Linked DNA regions of Homo sapiens: region 2 is linked to region 1. Evidence: fine-mapped expression QTL. A gene starts in region 1. The other region holds a variant in brackets. All regions are shown on one strand. Distances are between the middles of the regions. Region 1 holds the start of GALNT13 (polypeptide N-acetylgalactosaminyltransferase 13). Region 2 overlaps GALNT13 (polypeptide N-acetylgalactosaminyltransferase 13).

The links. PIP is the estimated chance that this variant, and not a neighbour inherited with it, causes the effect.
Region 2: its variant is fine-mapped to the expression of GALNT13 in aorta (GTEx, PIP above 0.99). The same link has a PIP of 0.9 or more in coronary artery and tibial artery.

Annotation. Positions count from the first base shown.
Region 1 is chr2:153,865,411-153,878,138 of GRCh38, reverse strand. It overlaps GALNT13 (polypeptide N-acetylgalactosaminyltransferase 13), which reads right to left and starts at 6,217. Exons shown (of 13, transcript NM_052917.4): 1 at 5,836-6,217.
Region 2 is chr2:154,355,837-154,368,564 of GRCh38, reverse strand. All of the region lies in intron 9 of GALNT13 (polypeptide N-acetylgalactosaminyltransferase 13), which reads right to left. Among named protein-coding and RNA genes, the nearest start is that of GALNT13-AS1, 95 kb to the left of the region's middle. The variant G/C (reference allele first, on the strand shown) is at 6,629.

The DNA of each region.
Region 1 (12,728 bases):
TTTTCAATCATTCTTACTATACAAAAGAAAATAATCACATAAAGTTTACCACTTGATTTTTTTAAATTATCAGTCAGTGAAAATGTCAGACTGAGAACTATTAGATTATTGGCTTCAAGGCAGAATAAACTGGTGTCATCCTTGATGCTCACACATATTAGCTGTGTGATTCTGAGGTGATGCCTCATTTATACAATGGCAACAGTAACATACTATTACTCATATTGTTGTTATAAAGATAAAACATGTTAAGACCTGCCAGATGTTTACTTACCACAGTACAAATACAAAGTAAACAACCAACGAATTTTAGCCACTTTATCAATTTATAACCCAATACACCATCTTACCTTCTTCATAAATAAGCTGGAATGGATACACCTTTACATATATTTTATTCCATTTTTCTTTCTTTAAACTAATGGTTGTATTTCATTGGGGTTTTGATAGTCATATAAATCTCACCTTCTCTATCTGAAACTAATTATATAATAATAATCTCAAGAGGAAATTAAGTCAGTTATTATGCTTCTAAGCTACATAATCCTCCTCATATGTCAAAATCCACTTTATTAACAAAAAAGAGGTGCTTTGCTTGTAATATCAAGGCAATTAATATAAGACAAGAGACTAAGTTGACATTTACTACTATCTTCAAGATGTTATTTGGATGATTTTTGATTGTGCTATGCTTTTAAATTCTTCTTTCTGTTTACAGTGGCTACTCACCACATGCATTACGTTCACCAATGTGTCAACAAGCAGATTAATCACACTCTTCCTAAAATGTTGTATAAGAGCTTAAATAAGATTTAAGTGACAATTCAATGTAGTGGAATATATGAAACAGAGTCCCAATTAATTCCTCTTCATGTTAAAACCTTAACATGATATATCTTGCACAGCCCCCATCTATCTTAACAATGAGCATATCTTTAAAAAATATGAAAGAAATCTAAGTATTTATTATGGACATTGTATTTAATTTTCTCACATAGTCTACAAGATGATAACAAATATGTTCATATCTATGGTAATAATAGTCATTCTTCTCCCTACATCCCTCTCAAACTATCTTGAGAGGATTAACCATTAACCTGGAACAATTTTTAATAACTGATATTTTGAATTGTGTTTGAGTTCATTTCTGAAGGGTAGGTAATTATGGTAGTGTACACATTAAGAGAGAGCCTGACAGTTCATGAGGACTCTAATTACGTGGACATTGAATGAAGTTGAGCCCTTAAAGGAAAAGCATGTCTCCCAACTTTAACTTAACAATTTAAATTTTAGATCCCATCAATCTCTGCAGTGATAACTTTTAAAAATTAAGAATTTCATTTAAATGTATAAGTCTAAAGACATACTAAAAACAGCTTGAAAAACTCATAGCTATAAATGAATTTAAGGACATGAGAGCACACAGTAATCAGAATCACACAGATGTCTTTAGCCACCTGTAATCATTTCTTGGTAATCAAGCTAACACCAATTAAATGTATTATAATAGATACACTACACTGAAAACACAGACACAGGTCTAAATATGAAATCAAGAAGAAACAAATATCAAGTGATTAAAGTCTGTTTGGTTTACACTGCTCCTCCCAAAAACTAGATATAATTGTTTATAATGCCCCAAACGGATGACTATTACTGAATTAAATGTATTCATTTTCATAAATTTCCTTGAAAAGCTAAATTTCACAATGAAAAACCAGACTTTTCAAACACAGGTATGCATATATTTGAATGGCAGAAGTCCTTCAACAATGTGCCTTGATAGAAATTGTAAACAGAAGTCTAATCTGATAAAATAATAAATGGTTTATCAAAGCAGACAGTGCCAGATCTTTAAATGTGATTTACGTTTTCAAACATATGCTTAGCCACTGTGTGTGTATGTGTGTGTGTGTGTGTGTGTGTGTGTGTGTGTAGTGTGGGGGGGTTGCTGTTAGAAATGTCATTAAATAGGTTGTCAGAATAAATATGAGTATATATATGTAGGACTTGATTTGATGTTTCACATGTGTTTATTTTGATGACAAGAGCAGAGGGAAGGATTTAGAACCAAAGCCCAGTTTAAATCCTTTGATAATTAGGCATATGGTCATTCAGACTTCAAAGCAGTGATCCTGTTAGATCCCATTAGATTTAAGATGTCTACATGTTCCTTCTGACAGGGACACAAATACAAGAAGGTGATGTACTAAGAGTCGCTGTCAAGAATGTGTTGTTTGTTGCAAGAGGTTTCTCTTTAAAATATCATGTCTAATAAGGCAAATTAGTTAAAGGTCATAACTATATGAAGTGTCCATTTTTAAAAGGACAATGAACACCTAACAGAGATATGTAGCATTATAATTTATTTTAGACAGTAAGGCTTAATTCTATTCCTACTTTATTCTCAAGCATTTTCTCGACTGTTATTATTCAGAAACACCAGGATTCTCTTCATCTGCCCATTCATAAAGAATAAAAATACCCATTTGTTACTGTTACTTCTTATCTCACCCCTTTCCTAAAATCCCGAAGTCTTTATAAGCTGTACAAGCTCTATTACATGAAAATGCTCCTGTTACAACTACTATTTCTAGAAATCAACTTGGCATGATAACAACATAGTTCACTCTGACATAACTGTTTAAACTGAAATGACTGCCCAGTAAGTTAAAAAGTTAGATGCATAAGTTAAACCTGTAAAACAAATAGAAGGTCTCTCAAACAATATCAGATTTTCCACCTTCATTATGTCTTTGCTATTTTTAAATATAAAAATTGGGTACAGTATCAAGTGATTTATAAATAATATTTTTAAAGAAAAATTGCTTTGAACATGCTCCTGCACCATACTCATGATAAATTAGCAACTATTTTAAGAGGTGACTAGCATATCATCAAGAAAGTAGTATTGCTGCCCATGGATTTCTATTATTACTTTGAATTAGGAGGCATTATGTTTCCAGGTACTTTAGGAAATTCTCACATTCATGCAGTATCGCACATCTCATATATATATATATATATGAAGCAGTAGGGGAATCCATAAATTATTTAGGGTAAGTGATCCAGCTTACAGATCAATATATAGCCCCCAAGTATTTTAAGCTGATATATCTGTTCTTTATATTAAAAGAGAGAACTTTTCACTTGTTAGAAACCACATGAAAGTATTCACCCAAAAATGATGCCATGTCCCAACTTACTTTCAGGTAAGGAGATTGAGAGATGCCACATTTCAGGGCCCCTCTAAACTCATTTCTTCAATTCTGCAATGACTGTGTTAAAGAACACCAGCCAAGTTGTAGACTTGCAAAAAGGGGCAAATTCAAGCAATAACATGAACTACAAAGAAGCAGAAGACCCCTGTTTCAATATCCCTTCTACTAGTTCTCAATTACCATTCATAAAAAATCTAAATGAAACCTCCCAAAAAAGGAGCGGGGAGGTGGAATTTAGCTGCAGGCTCCTTAGCATACCTGGTAACTTGGAAGCCTATGATCCGCTGCATGCTAATCAATCAACCAACAAGTTTTATTAAGCACTTACTAGTTTCCCCACACTGTCCTAGGGACTACATATCTGAGACAGCCTCCATTCTCACATTCCCACTCAGGACTTTCCGAACTGGAATTAATCTATACCAGCAGTACCCTATAATTCCTTTAGAAAAGCTTTCTATTCTTCCTCTCCAAAGCGGATCCGAGACACAGTGCCCCTACTTAAGCAAGTACCTTAAGCCCTGGAATGGGATAAGCATCACAGAAATGGTGAAATAAAAGCATTTATTTAAACAAGCAGAAGCAGCCAGGAAAATTCTCCATGGAATTGAAGGTGGATAGGGGCTAAAGGAGAGATGTGAAATCCTGGTTTATGGCAAACAGTGCAGAGAAATGCATCTTTTTAATGTTCAAAGTCTGCCTTAGGCTACGCAAATTCTCCAGACCTATCCAATTCCCAAATCAAACGAACAGGGTTTCAATATGAAGGTTCTTATTCTGCAGGAGACGTGGGGAAAGAAAAAAAAAAAAAAAACAGAGATTGCGGGAGGGGGGTGCGGGGGGAAAGAAAGATTAGTAATGTAATGCAAAAGTCATTCTTTGAGGAAAAGGAAAGGATGCGTGTAATACAAGGAGAATTATCCCGGAAGGTGAGAGGTCCAAAAGTAAATAACCAATAGGTTGACCTTACTTTTCAATATTCTCGAACCAGCAGGTTTCTTTAACACTAGAGGGCATGAACGCAAACGAGACAGAGAGAGAGAGACAGGGAGACAGCGAGAGAGAGAGACACAGAAAAAGAGAGAGAGAGAAAGAGAGAGAGACGGACTGAGACTCTGAGGAAAGGCAGCTTTCACATAAAGCTGAAAATATTCAAGGATACCAGAAATTTCAAGGGGGCTTTGGCAGCCAAGTGCCTTTAGCCTTGCGAATAAAACCTCTATGTTGTTATGTTGTTTCAGGGAAGGCTGACCACGATCTCTCCAAGGAAACCGCTTTCCTAAGCAATGAATGCATGGTAGTTTAAGGCAGGCATACCTCAGTCCCCAAAGCTCCTCTCCTCTGCTAGCAACACCTTTGCCTGAAGAAAGCTCCCACCCTTTCGAGGTTAGTTTCCCTGAACCCCAAAGCATCTATGTTTGCCTGCTCACTGTCCGTTCTTCTGCAGCTGGCTATAAAGGTTGGGGAGGCAGACTCTCCTCCTGGAAATTCAACTAACCATAGTCAAAGAATCGGGTATGCGGGAGGGGCTTGCGCAGCTTTCGCTGTCCAGAGTAGCAGCCTCAGTGCGCTCAGGTTCGCAGCAGCGCAGCGCCCTCGGACCCGGCAAGGGGAGCCTGCTGCGGTGCCCTCCACTCTAACCCCTTGCGCCCCTCCTTCAGGTCCACGACAGCCTGGACAAGGGCAGGCTGTCTCCTCCGCGTCCCCACTGACCCCGCAGGAAAATCTCTGCACCTGGAGATACCCATTAGATGCGCCAGGGCTTGCTCCCCTAACCAAGGCGCTTCGGGATCGCGGGGCTGGTGTTCGGGAAGACGGGGCAGAGAGATGACAGAGGGAGACAGAGATAAGCTGCGAGAAGCAGACACAGAAAGAGAACAAATGTTGCAAAACGGAGAGACAAAAGGAAAGACAGATTAACAGGGACACAGATATCCCAAGAAAGAAAGAGGGAAACAGAATAAGAGAAAAAAACAGATACATGGCCGGAGAGTGTGGACTGAGGGGACCAAGGCTCAGAAAGAGAAACAGAGGCAGAGACACACACGGCGAGAATGAGAGGCAAGAGGACTCTGAAAAAGCGAGGCAAAGGGGGCACTATACGAAGGCAACCGTCGAGGAAGACACCCAAGACCCAGGGAGCGCCTGGTGTCGGGTCGAGTAGAAACGCCCGCAACGCAGCCGGGGCTGCCTGCAGCTGGTGCGAGAAAGTTGTCTGGGCTTGGAGGCCGAGCCACCCCCGCGGAGGAACGTCACCAGAACGCAGAGGGGGCCAGAGCCGCTCCCCCCCCCCCCCCCGCCACCAACAACTCACCGGGGTAGCCAGAAAAGCAGAGCAGAAGGTGGGCGGCGGCAGAAAGTTCCGCGCCACGCGGTCCTCCCGCAACACCTGCAGCCCCGCAAGCGAGCGCACTCGGAGCTCCCGGGAGGCCGCGTCGCCAGGTCCGCCCGCGCCCCTGCCTTTGCCCTGGGACCGGCCCGGGGCGCTCGGCTCCGCGCCCCGGCACTCGCCGCGGGACTTTGCGGCACCTAGCCCCGGCACTCTGGCAGCCCAGAGGGAGCTCGTCCCAGACAATCAAGAGGAAAAGAGGGGAAGCGAGAAAGAGACGGAGACCTGCTATCCTGGCCAACGATCCCGCGAAGAGGGAACGGCGGTCCACACACGGGATTCAGCCTCAGATCAAGCCCAGCAGGCGCCGGCCGGCCGCGCCGAGTGCGGGGCTCGCCGAGTCCGCGCTCACCTGGAACCCGCGCCGGCCCGCGAGCGCCGCGCGCAGCCCCGGCTCCCGCCCGCGCCTCTCTCTTCACACTTGCCCGCGAGCAGAGGGAGCCGGCTCCAGCCTCGGCCAGCCCCAGAGAGGGGCCTTCATAGCGCAGCGGCGGGCTGAAGGGCTCCTCGAGCGCGGCCAGAGCGGACGCTGAGGCCGAGGAGGCGCCCAGAGCGAGCGAGGGCTGCTAGCACGTTGTCACCTCAGCAGAGCCGCCGCCGCCTGGTCACTTCTCCCCGGCCCCCGCCCCCCTCCCACCCCAGCCCGCCGCCTCCCGGTCCCTCCTCCTCGCGTGGTCCCTCCTCCTCTCGTAGCCCCAGCCTGGAGGCCTCTCACTGGGCTAGTATCATTTACGTAACCAGCACCCCCAGCCCTCCTCCCTCCCTGCTCCCGCTCCTCCCCGGGCTGGGGCGGTGCGCACCGAGCGCGCTCCAGCTGCTTCTGGAGCTGGCGCTTCTGCGATGTGCGCAAGTCCCGCGATACTTGGCAGGCACGGCCCCCAAGAGCAACCCTGGGGTCAGCTCCTCTCGCCGGAGGGCGCCTCGCGACCCCTGGCCGCTTTGGGGCCCCACAACGCCAAAGCCGGCCTGCGTGCACCGCGTTCGCCCAATGCACCAGGGAGCCTCTTAGAGGGGAGCTGGAGGATCAGAGACTGCCCTCGGGGAAAGCGCCGGCAACCCCACCCTTGCCGTCGGCTCTCCAGCCGAGAGATGCTGCGGGGTACTTGACGCTTCGGCGCCCTCCGCAGAAAGGACGGAGGTTGGCCTCTTGTTGGTTACAGTATCTACACCCTGGCAGGATCCTAGTGTTCTGGTTGGCGGTGACTACTGCCACCGAACGCACTGTAAGAGTACTGGAAACACAGAGCGCTTCCTTGTGGCTCTCAAATTTTTATGAAGAGGTAAAGAAAAAAGTGGGGCTTTGAATTCCTTTCTCAGGCAAGTAGGTATGATATTAAACACACACCCACTCCGAAGTACCTGGACGTATGAATGTCTCAGTTAATGTGTTGTACCAATACCCCCATGGTACTGAGTTTAAATACATGTAAAGATTTTAGAACAGTGCCTGGCACAAGGCAGAAACCTAAGACGCAGACATTATTAGCGTCTCAAAGACTTGGGACCTGTCCCCCACTGCCATGGGAGAGGAACTTTTCTAGGAAATTGGGATTGCCGAGTTCAAGTGCCTGCTTGGCAATTTATTCACTGTGGCTCTTGGCTAGTTTTGGCCCTTCGGGTGTCAGTTGTCTTGTTTGTAATAAGGGCTGACAGGGGTCCTTGCTTCTCACAGTGTCACTTCACACATCTTATAGGATGTTTTTGGCAGAATTGGGGGAGGATATAACGACTACATAAAAATATTAAACAGCCACGTTTGACAAACATATGATACTATTAATCATAATCTAGTATGTCAATGCCATTCTTGATTATACTCATGAAAGGCAATTTCCAGAGATATTATCTTTATATCTTTTCGTGAGTCAAGTATCATTTAAATTTCTATGTTAATAACTGTATTAATGTCTCCTCCTACATTGTCCATCCTGCCCTACCGTCAATTATGGAGCATTTACCAGAGATGCTTCTGTGCATGTGTGAGTACACAGGGTCCCACTCATAACACTCTGGAATGTCTCTCTACTGCTCTCTCTAGTGAATTCCAGTCCTAACATCAGGTCACTCACCTCTACATGGCATACTGAGAAAAACTGTGGACCAGGTAAAAGATTGGGGTTCTGATGCTGATACAGCTACTTACTAGTCCTATGTTTTTCAAAGACAAATAAGCCCCCATTCTTACATGTTTCATCTCTTAAAAAAAGGCGCAATTCCATTTTGCAGTCTTTGTGATAATATTTAACTTAGGCAGAATCATAAACTTGGTAAAATTTATTTGGGTAATTGGATATTTACGTAGTCCCAAAGTATCACCCTAGAAAGTATTGGCTTTTGGTGCATAACACACCATTCCAAAACTTATTAGCCCCAACCAATAAACATCTGTAATTTCTCAAAGCTCTGTGGGTTGTCAGGTTGGTTTCTGCCCTGGCTAGCTCAGTTTGGTTTAGAGATCTAGGATGGCTTCACTCACTTGTCTGGTGTGGCATACTTATTAGTCTTGAGGGTGTGGGACTCAGCTGCAATGTTTTGTCTTTTGTTTAATCTAGCCCATCATCCTTCAATAGGCTAGCAGTAGTCGTAGTTGCAGGGCTCCAAAAAGCAACAAGGGAGTGCAAGCTCCAATGTGAAGTACTCTGAGATTCTGTGGACGTACATTTGCTGGTGTCTCATTAGCCATGGAAGTTACATGGCCCAAACATAGATAATATAGTCCATGTCTTGATGGGAGAAACTATAATGCCATATTTCAAGGAGAATGCATACACAAAAATAACTTGAGGCTGTTTTTATAATATACTATAGATCCTTAATTACAAACGAATAATAAATTACATGTAGTGGATAAATCTGGTAAACATCACCTTAACCAACTGACCAAGGTTAAAGTCACCAATAATGGGACCAAGTGATATCATGAGCCTCATGATATGATGCACTGAGAAGTACATAACATTATTGATTTAGGATTCCAGATTAAAAAATGCATAATTGAATGCAATCACGAGAAAGCAAAGAAAGCCTTAAATTAAGGAAAATTCTACACAATATCTTGCCTATACTTTTCAAAAATGTCACTGTGATGAAAGTCAAAGAAAAGCTGAGGAAATATTCCAGACTAATGGAGATTTAAAAACCATGACTACTAAATGCAATGTGTAATCCAGAATTGGAGAGCAAACTGGGAATAATATCTATTAATATAAAGAGCATTACTGAGACAATCTAATTCAAAATATTAATAAAAACTATAATATCTAAACTGTATGACTTTTATTTATAATCAAATTAGTTTTATATCAATATTAAGTGTCCTAATTTAATTGTATTGTGATCATATATAAGAAAGCCCTGGATCTTTAAAAAATATAATAAAATATTTTGCAGTAAAAAGAACATAGAGGTTGTAAGGTCCAGAAATACCTATAGAGAGAATGATGATGCAAATGTGGCAACCTTTTATAACACCATTGGTAAATTTTGGTGAGGGGTATGTGTTAATTCTTTGTAGTAATTTTGCAATATTTCTTGAAGTTTAAATACTTTTTTAAAAATCAGGTAGTTATCATTATTTACCTCATAAGAATAATAACCACAATAATTTATCTGAATGAGTGTTGAAAGTTATTAAAAAGTCATATTTTTTCAAACAGAAAGTTTGGCATTTATCTTTAATCAAAGTGGAGCTATTGCAAGTATTTGCTTAGATAAATGGTAAGACCAATACTGTACAATTCTTGGCTATAAGGCCAATACAAGGGCTACCAGGCCAAGAATGTCTATTGGCCAATATAAGGCCAAATGTATAGGGCCTTAGCTACAGAGTATACAAAAGACAGGGATATGAGTTTAGCAGCTACAATTGTCCATTATGTGATTAACCAAGGCGCTCATTCTAAAGGGAAATAAAGGGTGAGATAGTTATGTCTTGCTGAAATTAAATTACCAGGTTTTGGCAAATTATTAGGAATGATGGATAAAGGAAAATGTATTATATAACTTTAAGAGATTAAGATTGGATGAGTAGGATGATGGAGATGCCATTATTAAGGGACACTGAAAGCAATAACTTTATTTTCTAAAATGAAATCTAATAATATTTTCTTCTAATTATAACATTTAAGTGGCTTCTCATTGATTTTAAGAAATTGTCTAAAATCTCTAACATGCCCTATAAGAACCTTTATACTCTGGGGCTCTGCTTACCTCCTTTGTACTTACAATGAGCTAAGCACTGCAATAGGTTTTGAAGACAAAGAGGAAAGTAAAGACAGCCTGCACAAAACTTAGGGTTCAGTCATACATCCCATGAATATACATTGAGCACTTACAGAATGACAGTTATTTACTAGGAACTGGGAATACAGCAGTGAGCTAAGGCTAATGCTCACTGCTATATTCCCAGTGCCTACCAGTGAGAAGAAGAAAATGCCTAGCACTGTCTAGCAGTGAGAAAAAAGATATAGATCCTGCCTTCATGAATACTACATTTTGCTGAGGTATGTCCTAACCCAAAGGTCTGCAACCCCCGAACCACAGACCTATGGCAGTCCATGGCCTGTTAGGAACTGGGCCACACAGAAGGATATGAGGGATGGGTGAGCCAGTGAAGCTTCATCTGTATTTATAGCCACTCCTCATTGCTCACATTACTGCCTGAGCTCCACCTCCTGTAAGATCAGCAGCAGCATTAGATTCTCTTAGGAGTGTGAACCCTATTGTGAACTGCACATGTGAGGGAACTAGGTTGTGCTCCTTATGAGAATCTAATGCCTGATGATCTGTCACTATCTCCCATCACCCCCAGATGGGACCATCTAGTTGCAGGAATACAAGCCGAGGGCTCCCACTGATTCTACATTATGGTGAGTTAGATAATTATTTCATAATATATTTCAATGTAATAATAATAGAAATAAAGTACACAATAAACGTCATGTGCTTAAATCATCCTGAAACCATCCCCTCTCCCAGTCTGTGGAAAAATTGTCTTCCACAAAACTGGTCCCTGGGGCCAAAAATGTTGGGGAGGGCTATCCTAACCAAATAAATAAGTAGGTGTGTATTTACGTCAGGTGATAATAAATTCTAGAAGAAAATTGAAATAGGCTAAGAGTTGAGCTTTTCAACTCATGCACCACAAATAGTTTATAGATATGCCATAACATATCGATCACTACACCCATCAGAAGTAGCCAAGTAGTGTAGCCTCAAGTTGCTAGGGCCCGTAATTAGATAGCCTGGATCATAAGAAACTTGATAAGAGCTTCTTGGAGAATGGCCTGCATGTGCAGTTCAAAGTATAGCCCATTGTGGGTGGGAAAGCAAGGAGGTTGGGCAGAAACTGCTAGTGGGAATAGCTCCAGCTAATAACACAAAGATTTAGCAACATAAAGATTAAGTAATTCTATTTCATATATAGTTGATTTGTTATTTTAGTGGTAACCATGTCAGCTGCAGATTGACTGTTCTTATAATGCACGGGCATTCTTCATATTCAAGCTTTATCATTATGTTGAATAGATTTGATAAAATCCATGGATAGCCACAAAAAAATTTGAATCAATTAATGAAAGAAAAGTAGAGATGATATATTTTAAATAAGATTTTAACTGATGTAAATATTTGGTCATAGAAGCAAATGTTTACAATCTTTCTCACCTATACTTGTGCAGACAAATTTTCTCATCATTTATGATGATAAACCTATTACACAATCATTTAAAATGTCACAATCAGTAAATAATATAGCTACTTCAAGCATAAAATCTTTTGTTAAAATGTTGACTTTATGAAAGCAATATCTCATTAAAAGTTTTAAAGTTTTATTTGTTTTATTTGGAAGTCTTATGATTCAATATATCTTATTATTATAGGTTTTGTAACAATAATTTCATGACATGAAGAAAGTATAATTAGTTTTAAACTAAGCTTTATACTAATACACTCAAATTTGCTCTAGTTTATCTTATTATCCATAAAGCCTTATATCATCTGTCATTTGCACCAAACACAGTGGCAAATTTACATTTTTCCATGACGGTGATTTGTATATATTTTCTCCACTATATAGTAGGATATATGAGAGCAAAAAAAATAGATTTATTTGTTTATAAAGGGAGGTGGTTGTTGTAACTTTATTCAAAGCACAGTGCCTTTCGTACAGTAAATTCCTGTTGAATGGATAAATAAATCCAACCATTTATTTTTTTTTATTATACTTTAAGTTTTAGGGTGCATGTGCACATTGTGCAGGTTAGTTACATATGTATACATGTGCCGTGCTGGTGCGCTGCACCCACTAACTCGTCATCTAGCATTAGGTATATCTCCCAATGCTATCCCTCCCCCCTCCCCCCACCCCACAACAGTCCCCAGAGTGTGATATTCCCCTTCCTGTGTCCATGTGATCTCATTGTTCAATTCCCACCTATGAGTGAGAATATGCGGTGTTTGGTTTTTTGTTCTTGCGATAGTTTACTGAGAATGATGATTTCCAATTTCATCCATGTCCCTACAAAGGACATGAACTCATCATTTTTTATGGCTGCATAGTATTCCATGGTGTATATGTGCCACATTTTCTTAATCCAGTCTATCATTGTTGGACATTTGGGTTGGTTCCAAGTCTTTGCTATTGTGAATAATGCCGCAATAAACATACGTGTGCATGTGTCTTTATAGCAGCATGATTTATAGTCATTTGGGTATATACCCAGTAATGGGATGGCTGGGTCAAATGGTATTTCTAGTTCTAGATCCCTGAGGAATCGCCACACTGACTTCCACAATGGTTGAACTAGTTTACAGTCCCACCAACAGTGTAAAAGTGTTCCTGTTTCTCCACATCCTCTCCAGCACCTGTTGTTTCCTGACTTTTTAATGATCGCCATTCTAACTGGTGTGAGATGGTATCTCATTGTGGTTTTGATTTGCATTTCTCTGATGGCCAGTGATGATGAGCATTTTTTCATGTGTTTTTTGGCTGCATAAATGTCTTCTTTTGAGAAGTGTCTGTTCATGTCCTTCGCCCAGTTTTTGATGGGGTTGTTTGTTTTTTTCTTGTAAATTTGTTTGAGTTCATTGTAGATTCTGGATATTAGCCCTTTGTCAGA
Region 2 (12,728 bases), 490 kb before region 1:
TTCACCCACCTCCCTGCCTGTGCACAGTTCCTCTGAAGTTAAAACCCTTTACATTTTACTCTACGAACAATGAAGGTAATATTACGGAGACATTTGACTAGATATTCTCCATTAAAAAAGGCCTTCATCCCACAGAAGTGGCAGCCATGGTTCTTTGGGAAAGACAGGCCTGCATCTGGTCAGTCACACCCCAGAGAGGGGTGTGACCTTAGTGTTGGCAGGGGTTTCTATGCTGTGGTCAGCTTTGTCTGAGCTATACTGGCCTTCACACTGACTAATCTCACATGAGAAGCTCATATCAGAATAAAAGAGAAATATATGTAGGTTTCTATGAAAAAGTAATTTCTGATAGCAAATCTGTGAAACTGCCTTTTTGTCATCAGAGCCAGAGAATTTTTTTTTTACATATTTTATCCAATTTATCCATTGAATTATCTTTTAATCAAAGTGAATTCACTGGAGCTATATATAGATGTTTATTCTAAAAATATACTCATATTTCAATGTCCGCTGTTGGCCCAAACCCAAACTTTTCTAGTTACATTAATCCACTGTTTTGGTTTTCAATCAAATACTACATATTTTTATTCAACTATAGTTCTGAAAATATTGTGAGAATCTCTATTATCATAAATCATACTTTATTCTTGAACTTTTTACTCACAGTATTCCCATTTCCCATGATAAATGTTTTCATCCTTAACTGCTTTTGTTCCATAAATTATTCTGCTTCAGAGAATTCTTTATCTATGCCTGTCATTTAAAAATATGTTTATAGATCATATCCACACTTCCTACTCTTTATCAATAGAGAAATTGGCAAGGTCATAAAAACATACTCTTTTTTTACATTATAAGAATAGCTTCTAGATCTTTTTATAGTCAGGCTCTGCCAAAAGATTTTATTCTTGTTTGCAATAGGAACCGTGAAAATGTGGAATTTTCTAAAATATCAGAATGAGAAGGCCAATTCTATTGTTATTTTATACTCTTGAAATGGTAAGTAGTGAAATGGTACATAATATTAAAAAAACAATGCTTCTTGGGCTTCAGAATGTAAACTGTGTTCTCTCACAATTTGCTGGAAATGCCAGCTAGGATTTTCAGGAATGTTTTATGACTTTCCAGGTAGGGACGTACATAACCTGCTCTATGTAACTAATGGCTAACAAAATCATGCTTTCTACTGCCTGGCCTACTTCTGGACCATTTGCTAATAACCTTTTCATTTTTAAATTTTTCTTTGTTTTCATTTCTAGAGAGGGGATTGACAAAGTTATCATCCATTTTTCCACATAGATAAGGGATCTTAACATCTTGAACTCCCTTGTTCCCTGATAGTTATTTTTAGAATGATCTTGCTTATGTTCGAATCACTTATGTTTCATCTCATTTATGGTTTACATCTCAGCTGTTTTATAACCAGAAACTCTCTACACTGTAAAAAGTGAATTCTATTTTTACTCTGTTATATAATTTCAATTTTTTTTTAAAAAAGGAGTTTATTTAACTAAAATAATGAACATAAAAAGTAGCAACAATGAAACCCATTCATTTCACAGTGTCCAACCTGGTCTAAGGGAGAGTATTCCATGGTATTTCTTCCTTTACATATCATTCATAATCCAGTCTAATCAGTCCCTATATGCTCACCTTAAATGTTTGACACAGTTTGTTGGAGTCCCTGTACCTTAAGTGACATTTGGAATTGACTTATTTGAGATCACCTGATTGAAACTTAGACTTGCTTTTTTGTGTAACTATACTTTCCGCCTTCCCTCTTCTCTGGTGATCACTTTCCACACAGTAATCATTGTTGGACTCCAACTCTGTTTCTGTCCATCATACAGAGGAATTCTTCCCACGGTGCGCAAATTCCCGCTTCCTTGACATATAACCTTAGTTCTCATCTGAGAATTCTCACCTGATTAACACTGCTCAGAAGTCGTGACATGTATAATACATGTTAAAAATTAATGCTCACTTGGAGCAGATTTGAATTTGCTTTAACAGTTTAACTCATTGTACTTGATATCTCAGTCTAAAAGATGTCAGTTGGTTTACTCAATCTTGTTACGAGGTTCTGGTTGTTTCCATCACACTCCTCTCTAGGTATGACTTATGTCTGAGGCTGTGCTACATATGCAAGGCATAGTGCTCATGATTAAATATGTTAATTACATATATAGCGAGTGACATATACATCCTTAAATTTGTAATATACATATATGCAATACACATGTACATTATATTTTCTAAACTATATATTTTAGACAAAGATAGAACTTTGAAAACTCTTTAAAAGACAGGAACCTTTTAAATGTAAATATCTGAATATCAGATTATGACTTTCTGCATCTGGGACATTTTTTAGGGGTAAGGAAGAAGAAAAGAGAATAACTGGCTGTGATATGACACTAAATCTTTCCTAATGGCTTTGGTATAAATCATTGTTAAATGATATATGTTCATACAATCAGGAAAAAAATTTAATGTATTATTAATTAAAATTACAGGAACACATCAACAGGCTTTAGTTCTCATCAATGATATTTAGTTCTTAAGTACTCTAGTGGAAAGGATGAAAATCTTTGATGATTGTCAATAGCATTGACTTCACACTAATGGCCAGAGGTCTAGGTCTCTTCACCAGGCTGATATTGGGTCAGGTTTCTGTGGAGGAAAATACTTATTACTCTTCACATTGAAGACATCATTCAGAAAATTTGGCTGCTAAGGGAGATTTCCTTTTACAGAGATAGTTCTTCTCATGCAGTAAGTAAGACTTGTTTAGTCAGTTAATCAATCTAATTATATTTACTGAGTATCTAACAGGAAAGAATGCAGACAATGGAATCCTAAGTCGATGACTTAAGCCACTTTCTCTGAATAAAGCTGGTGAAGAAACATTTCCTTACTTCAGTCAAGTCTCAATTCATCTATAGGATGATCTTGTCACAGAAGTCCACCTTACTTTATGAAATAGATATATTGTTTCCAAATTGAATCTTAATTTTATTGGGAATACTTACCCTTTAAAACAATTTTGGGATGAATCATAGTAATGCACAGATGAAATTGTGGAACTTTTTATAATAAAAACGGCAAGTTCTAGCATAAGGTCAAAGTTTTTCATTCTCTTTTTAAAATATTGGCAATTTATAAATAGAGCACAAATATATTTTTCCTTTTGTCTTTGAGGGTGGGTAGCTGTATTGCTCTGGTTTAAATTGAAGGGTATGCTTGGGAATTAGTTGTATGAAAATCATTTATATCCAACAATTGATTGTGACCTGCTTAGGAAAAAACGTATCTATTCTTAGAAACCCAGAGACTAAACTAGTAACACACTTGGTAAAGGTGTTCAGTGAATAGGATAAATGGATAAATAAAGCCTCTATGAAGTTAATGATTTTACTCATTTGAAAAGAAAAAAGAACAGAATGGGAAGATCACCCCAACTAGGTGGGATGCTAATTTTCATGTGAAAATTGAACGATGTTGAACTAGTTTGTCTAGTAGGTGCTAAACTGGCAGTTATATTTTTGCAAAAAGTACAAGAATGCAAATGTACATAAAAAGTGAAGGATAACTCTTTGGTGAAGTGGCTTACGCCTGTAATCCCAGCACTTTTGGAAGGCCGAGGCGGGCGAATCACTTGAGGTCAGGAGTTCAAGACCAGCTTAGCCAACATGGCAAAACCCCGTCTCTACTAAATATACAAAAATTAGCCAGGTATGGTGGCAGGAGCTTGTAATTCCAGCTACTTGGGAGGCTGAGGCAAGGGAATCGCTTGAACTCGGGAGGTGGAGTTGCGGTGAGCCAAGATCGCGCCATCGCATTCCAGCCCGGGAGAGAGAGTGAGACTCCGTCTCAAAACAAAACAAAACAAAACAAAACAAAACAAAACAAAACAAAACAACAAAAGTGAAGGATAACAATACTCAATAGTCATATAAGAAAACAGATTAAAAGTTTAATTCTAAAATACTGTGTTAGATAACCGCATTTTAAGAAAGGTCTGATTTCATTTTCACTGATATCCTTAGAAAGCAGCCTAAGGATATGAATTTGCTATACTTTCTAACTGCCCGTGATCACACTTTTCTCAGTCTTGATGGAATTTACTGGAGTCGAGATATTCTCCCTTGAACTTGTAAAGCCAGTCTTCCGTAATCATCAGATTTTGATGATTTCCTACAGGATAAGTGATATTACACAATGTGTTAATGCTTTATACAGTTAGGTTAAAAATATTCTTGCTAACAAAGAGGTTGCACTATTACACTCCCAAAAGTGAGATTAACTTAAAATTAAGTTTCTATTTTAACTCCATGAGATAAAATTAGAAATAACCTTTCTATAACTATAACAGTTGTAAATTATTTCCTTGTCTCAATACCATATAGCTTGCCTATAAATAGAAATTATGATTTCATTTAAATTCTGTAAGGATAATACAACAGTATCTTACCTCTGGTCAATATAGTATACTTCTCATTTTATTCCATTCAATATATATAACCTGTGTGATTTTTAGCTCATGCAATTTTTAATTCAAGGATGATGGATTTTTAATGTTCTTAACACAAAAAATAATTATTGAAAGATATATGTTGAAGACTTTCATTTTTTAGACCCCCTAGATAGTTTCATCTCAAGGCTATACAGGGATTGAGACGTCTATGCCTACCCACTAGGCAGTTCTCAAATATGATTCTTTTTGTAGATGGGATAAAGCACTTGGGTGATATTTTCAGATGAATATAGACATTGACTTTAAAACACAATTGCATAAACATGATGTGGAAGGCATAGGTCTGGGGAGTCAATTCAACACTTCTATTTAACTCCAGTCTTTATCTTTTATATTTATTCCAAAAGAGCTTCACATAAAAACTCCCTACAGAAAAAGAATTTGCCCACATTTACATTTCAGCATATAGACATAACCATTTCATTTCATCACACTGTTCTTTGCTTTTTTTCATATTTTAGAATGTGGTTTAATTTTCTTTCATCACCATAATGGGTCAGAGTGTGCAGAACAGTGATTGCAACAAAATTGCATTTTTAAGAAAAGGTCGTGCAATTAGCTGATGGATTGATGGAGATAACTATGACAGGCAGAATCCTCACTGGTCCACTGCAGAAATCCACAGAATAAATAATCAGAACATTTGAGCTTCCCCCCGCTCCACAAAAAAAAGTTAAAACAAATGCTATAGACATAATTCAGAATACTGTTCTGAAAAGACTGGAAGCAAGCCAAGGCTTGAGAATATCTAAGCCATACTGGGAAGGCAGAGAAGATGAAAGAGTAGTGATTCAAACTGGGGTGAGCTGGTTGGACAGGCGTACATCTGGCTTACCAAGCCTATTGGGTTTTTAAGCCAAGAAAGGTAATACAGTGCGAGAAAAAGTTAGCAAAACAAACAATGGATTCTGAAAATAACAAATCCCAGAGATCAGTAGAATCAGGTGAGAAAAAAACAAGTTTTGAATGTACTTAAGCTTAGAAAGTATTTCTGGGTTAAAGTAAATGAGAAAGCAAAACAGTGTACAATGCAACTTTAAAAGCTGTGTAAGGAATTTGGTAACTCAAAAATAAACTGACAATTTCATTTGTGATTTAAATCTGTTATAATGAAAACTCACGTGATTACTTTAATACTTTAAAGGGTTTGAAAGGTTGACCTACGCTAATTATTGAGCCATATAGTATCCTCACACTCATGAAAATGAATGTGGGGAGAAAATTTCTTCCTTAATGCAATAGCTATTTGGCCACTTGTAGGCAGTATTTTAGAGGTGATTCATGCATTGCTTAGTATAGCAGTTATGCAAAACTTAGTGCATAAAACAATGACCAGTTTTTTTAGCTCATAATTCTGTAAGTCAACAATTTGTCTGGGCTTAGCTGGGCTTTATTTTTTCTTCTTGTATATCAAGTTTTCTCTTGCATTTGGCAAGAGCTTTTGGGTTGGGTGGGGGTTGGCTAGTTTAAGATGACTTTGACTAGAAAGACTGGGATGAATGGGACCTCTCTACACATGGTCTCTCACCCACCAATAGTTTAAACTGGCTTGCTCATATGCTAAACATTCTCCGAGAGAAAAAGAGAAAGAGAGAGAGGAAAAGATGAAAGGAGAGGTGGGGGAGAGAGAGAGATGAAATATACAAATCTTTAGTCTGAGAATCAAAACCTACTCTATTTTATTCTATGTCATGTATGTCAGAAAAGCAAGTAATAAGACTAGTCCAGACTCAAGAAGCGAGAAACTAGATAGACTCACTTCTTGATGTGGGGTGGGGTGGGGGTGGGGGTAGAATTTGTGATCATTTTTTACACTCTGAAAATATGTGTTAGAATAGAAACTTCCAAGGACCATTCCAATTCTTAATGCCAATTCTTTTGTGAAAATAGGGTGCCACCAGTTCCTGTGGACACTCAGTTGTTTATCTTCATTGCCTTCTTTACTCTTTGTTCTTTACTCTTCTATGTCTGAAGTGATAGCTTAGTTAGAGCTGATTCCATGGGACTGGGCTCAGTAGTAGCAGGATCTTTTACCAAGAACTGTGGGCAAACTAAATCAAGTATGGCAGTCAAGGGCCAGTTATCTTGAGA[G/C]ATGAGTCATATTAGTTTTCCAAAATAAATAAGTCTTGGAAAGAGTGCCAGAAGCTAAACTAAGAAGTCTTAGGAAAGCCAAAACTAAAATTCAAGCATGAGAAATCACTGCCCAAGACTGAGGTGAATAATGTTTATTTAAAAAGCCTAATCATGCTTATTAGAATGACACAGGCCTAGTTTTTGACATTCAAAGGCCCAGAAATTAAGTGGATATGATTCTTTTACTAATCAGTATGGAATCGCACAATAGTAATAGGCAGCATCTGTTAAGTACTCACTATGTGACAGAAATGGGCTAAGCACTTTACACTAAATCTAAAGGCAATCCTATGAGATAGACACTATTTTTAGTTTTATATAAGAGGGATTTGAGGATTAGAGAATGCACTGTATTACAGCAAAATGATAAAGTTTACACAACTGGCAAGCAGGAGAGCTAGGATTTCAATCCAGGACAGTCTGATTCCAAATATTCAGCCTTGAATCACAAAGTCATAAGATCACTCCAAAAGGTTTTGGCTGAAAGAATTATAGACCGTCTAGTTACATTTTAGAAATGTTATAACTTAGCCAATGTTACATACTTAAACAGTATCAGAATTGGAGCTAGAGACTAATTTAGGTTACACATATACCAATCTTGAAGGAAGCGTTTATGCTATATATGCATATAAACCGTATATGGATACATCATACAAATTAATCTACAACATGCCCCTATGCTTTGTAATACCAGCAGTGTTGATCACATTCTGCTCAATAAAATCTTTATAAACATAACTTAAATATCAGACAAAAATAAGCTGTTCTTTTGGGTGTTTAATATGAAAAATATGTAGAGAAATTAGGCTATTTATGCAAGATCACTTTACTTTCTTCCCCACCACTCACTCCATGCTCCAATTGTTTTACATAACCCATCTTTCCAAATTGTGTTTTGTATTTTCATTTTTTGTTTTCAAATTTCCTAGGTTTTTAACCAACCCCATCTTCACTCCCCTTCCCCATGCTTCTAAAGTATGATTCATCTTTATAATCCCAAGTCAAATGCCTCAACCCTTTTTGGCTGGATTAATCTCATCCTTCCTTCTCTGAATTCTTGTATAGACTTAAATTGCCTGAGAGCTATCATGGTGCCACATCAAACTGAGTTCCTTGAAAGCAGGAGCTCTGCTTTCTATTTCTTTAAATTTCTAGTACACAGTATGTTACTTGGTACAACATACGTGCTCAATAAAGATATACTGAATAGTCACATTTATGACAATAGACTTATGAGACATCCATCCACACATAGGTACACGTTGCAAATTTGTATCACTCTAAAAACAGGCACAAGCCATCTGAGGAATAATTCCAGTAGCAAAACAAAAATATACTCTTATTTGGGAATGTTTTTCGCTTTTCTGCGAAAGCAGCACCCTATACTGGGATAAAACACAGTCTGTGGTACTTCCTTTGACACATTTCTCTCCCCCATAGTTTTTCCGAAACTCAAAGATCTATTTAAGAAGTTGGACAAAGAATGGCCTATTCCCTTAATATTTCAGGAACATGAATGGTTGGACTATTCTTTTTAAAGGAATGAACAAAGCCTGAATATACAGCCAGTGGACTATAAATGGATTATTGTTTTCTTTACATTGTAAGCAACAGCAGTAAACAAGGATATAAATGTTAATGATATTTCTTTAACAAAAGCTATCCATCAGCACTGCTGCACTGTGAGCAGTACAGTGATTAAACCACTGTAACATATGTATATGTGAATATTTACAAACAATCAAGGAAAAAAAGCAGTCAGTGTAATACTGTATAACTCGAAAGAACATGATTATTATTTTTTAAAAGAAAACAAGTTTATTGTCAAACATTTTTCCAGGACATTTGCTACAATGCCTTAACTACATTTTCTTAGACATAATATTGTCTTTGCTCATTAAATCATGTTGTTTTGGGAATGCTTATTTTTGAGATCAAAGGCTACATTTTCAGTAAGTCTACCTTAACAGATTGCCTTAGACAGCATTCTATTACATTAAGTTAAAGAAAATAGCCATTCTAACTTATAATTCATTTTACTGAGGAGCAGCAATCTAATTCACATTGATTTTGAGTAAACCTTTACATACCCATCTGCTCCATTTCAAGCTAGGCTTGTACAAATCAATGCATCTTCAGTATCAACATGCACTAATCAATGGGTAAGGAAAATCATTATTTACTGCTTGGTAATTGTGTTTACATTCAAATAAAATATAGTAACATGTACAAGGCCATTTTGGAGGAAGAACGAGTGGCCTATGGATCACAAGCAGATTGTCTTACATTGTATCAGATGATCTGAGAAATTTTACCAGGAAGGTAAGAGATGACCGTAAGTCTCACCTTTGCCTCGTTTTAGCTCTTAAGGTAGTTGTCCACATTTTCATGATCTTTCAATTCTAGGAAGCCTCCAGTAGGTGAATGGTAGTTCCAGGAACCATCGCTACAGGCAGCAATTCTCCCTACTGGATTATGATCAGCTCCAGAGCTGATCTGGTCTCTGCCCACCTGCTCACTCTTGGCTCTGAAACTTCACTTTAGATTTCTCTTGTCATTTGAACTTGGAGTATATATTTGGTTTCCTAGTGTTTGAATCTCAGTTTTCCCTAGTGGCTACCTGGGACTTGTCCCGCTGATGCTCTATTTTCAAGACTACCTTGAATAGGATACCCGGTCTAGTTTCAACCTCATTTAGACTCCAATCTCTGATGCCACTAGATTCCTGCTTTAACTCCACTGTGAAGGGCAGGGGAAGGAAAGTCAAAACACAGGAATACACATAGAAGTAAATGAAATACCTTGTAGTTCTGATTCACCAAACTTTATTAAGACAGCCCTGCAAACAGCAGGACAGATAAGACTAGGTTCCTGCCTCCCAGCATAACCGAACAGATGGGCTACGATGAAATTGCCCATCAAAATTTGTTTTGTCCTATTTTATTACAGTTATTCAGACAAGGAATGCAGATTGAAACAAGGAATGGCTGAAAACAGGTTCTGTTTTTAGTGAATTTCAGTGAGTGAACAGATTCACAGTACTATGAATGCAAGTCACACATTTCTTCCATTGTAGCTTCTCATAAAGAGCTAGAGACTGTACGTGGCAAGTATCTAAGTAGTTAAGTTAGCAGCGTAAACATTGGAATGATGCAAAGAAAATGTGCTCAAAGATCATGTGCATTTGTAAATCAAATTAGCAAATAAGGATATAATTTGAAAAACAGTAAGACTTATTGTTTGTAATCCTGAAAAGAAAAAAAATCAAAAAAGCAAATAAAACCCATGGATCCAAATATGATTTTCCTTTGTAGTATTGTATAAACCTCCCATTTTAGAAGTTATTATATTACATAGAAACTTCAAATTTAGTGATTTTGAGTCCAGATAGTGCTTTAATATATACGGAATTGTAAAATTTTATATGAAAGTGAATATATTCTATAAATGCATATAAAGTTGGTTTAGACTGATAAATGATTTCTGTTCGTTGATGTTTAGCCAGAGCATTTAGTATGAGTAACCAAATCTGAGTTCATTTAGTGAAGAGTGGAAAAAATAGGTTTCTACAAATATGAAAATTCACCTAAAATATATCACCTTATAAAAAATGACAACACTTTCTAAGATGTGTGTTGCTAAAAGATATTTAAGAGAAATGAAATATCAAAGATAACTGGATCACACTTCCATGGTAAGAGAACTTGCTGTTTGGAAAAGTGGCTTTGTTTCAATGTATATATGTGTAGCACATGTAATTTGTGTAAGAGCAAAGCAAATCAGATGAGAATTTCAAGAAGTTGAGTGTTCCATAAGCAACGTGTAAAAATATTCACATTCTATAGAAGTATTATAGTTTGGAAGGGCACATTCCACTCAAAGCTCAGATATACACAAATTGGGCTGAGATGAGTAAGTCAGAAACTCAGTATAGAAGATCAAAAAATATAATTTGCTAAGTTTAAATAAAGGAGAAATTTTAAAATGTGTAGTTTTATTTGATTTAGTCATTTAATTAGTAGGCTATTTTCTAAGTCCCATTTGAACATAATAGCTGCAAACCATCATTATCCTCCATGAAGCATACACTGAAAGACCGATGTTATCTACATCTGCCATCACTCCAGCTGAATGTCAAATGTGACTGATACTGGGATATAAATGAGTATCATGACTATCCCAGTGAATGACCAGTCATCCCTTGACCCATATCCTTCAGTAATGAAGCTTTGTTTCAGGTGACAACATGGAGGATCAGAATATTTGATAAGCTTGCCTAATGTCATAGGAAAGATACAAGTCAGGTATTTTCGCCGTTGTCATCCACTATGCACAATGGCTCATGATTACTACCTGCTAGTGACTAAACTCAGCTAGCTAAATAATTTGCATGCCTTTTTACACGCCTTAAATGTCAGCAGCACCCCACTTCTTACACTGTGCATGTAGTTGAATGAGAAAGTGGGAATAGAACTGGGACACCAGGACAAACATCTAACTCTAATAAAGAGAAGACAACTCACATGAAATATGAAAATTAAAGGTTAATACTCACCAGTAATACAAAATATTTTAATTACAAAATATAGCAGTAATGCAGCTTAGAATACATATTGCCCCAAATAAGTCATCCAAGAGTGCTACAAAGAATTTTTGACTCTCCTAGAAAGTTAAGAGCTAAAAGAGATCTTAGAGATTATTTTAATGATTCTATGTCTTTAATGTGTAGATGCAGCAACTGGTTTGACCTTGGAAATGTACGTCCCCAAAACTATATTGCAAGCAGGAGGTACAAAAGCAATTAGAAGATAGATCTTCTAGTTCATGTAATACCAAATATAATGTTCTTTTTTATACACTAAGTTCCCACAGTTTTATTTCATTTCAATCAATCTTCAGGTTAATAAAAACAGGTATTATCAAATATCTATATTTATATAGATCATATAAGACAACCAAAAGCTTTTCCTAAACAGATACCTATGGTATCTAGTCTAGTGGAAGACATAATAACTATAGGTAGTACATGGTTATCAATTTATGTGCTAACAGCAAAGTATTTATTTAATGTACATTTGAAAAATATGCATCAACATATAGTTTTATAGTTTAAGGCTCAGTTAGAAGTATAAGAAGATTGAAAATCAATTTAAAGAAACAAATAAATATGGATTAGAATATGGCAAAGGTAATAAAAAGGTAAGTAAATTAATGGCGGAGGTTTGGGAAAAACTGACCTAAAGTAGAATATATTGGACATATAAAATTGAGGAAAGGTAGTTATTTACAAAAAGATGTGCCAGTGATGAAGTTTCCTAAGTAGAATAATTTAGTGTAAATGATAAAGTACCTCATGCAAGATATGAAATGAGTATTCATGTAGAATACTCTGTGACATCCACCCTATACAATTTTTTTCAAAATAATTTCTCATGTATTGCTTTATTGCTATATTGATTTCAAGAACTGATTAAAAAGCACTTTTTTCCATGTGTCTAGATTTCTCATAACTAAAATCCAATCTGAGCAAATTGAACACTAGCAATTCTCAGACTCTTAAATGAAAACACACAATTTTAGAGTCTGAGTTTAGGAAATCAGAATAATCCACCAGAGACACATTTCTTCAACAGTTTTTTTAAAAAGAGTTCTAAGGAAAACCTACTTAGCAGTTAGATTTAAATTAACTTGATTAATAGGAAAAAGCTAATGGGCAAATCTGTAGATAACTTTGTCAAAAAACAAAGCAAACAGATTTTAAGCCACTTCTGAGAAGTTTATCTCACCAATAGAATAGTGATCAAAGAGAAATCATTTGAAATTGTGTTTAGTAGAGGCTTAGCAATATCAGACCTAAATTAAATCAAATCGAGGTGTTTGAAACCATTTTAATATCAAAGAGAACCTGATGACAACTTTTCTTCTCAATAAGAACACATGGCAATTAAAGATACTGGCAGGAAGAAAGTCAGAAGGCCCAGACTGAGATTCCTGTCACTAAGAAAATTTAAATCCTCTTCTTGGTACACTGGTACAAGAGAAAAACATGACCTCA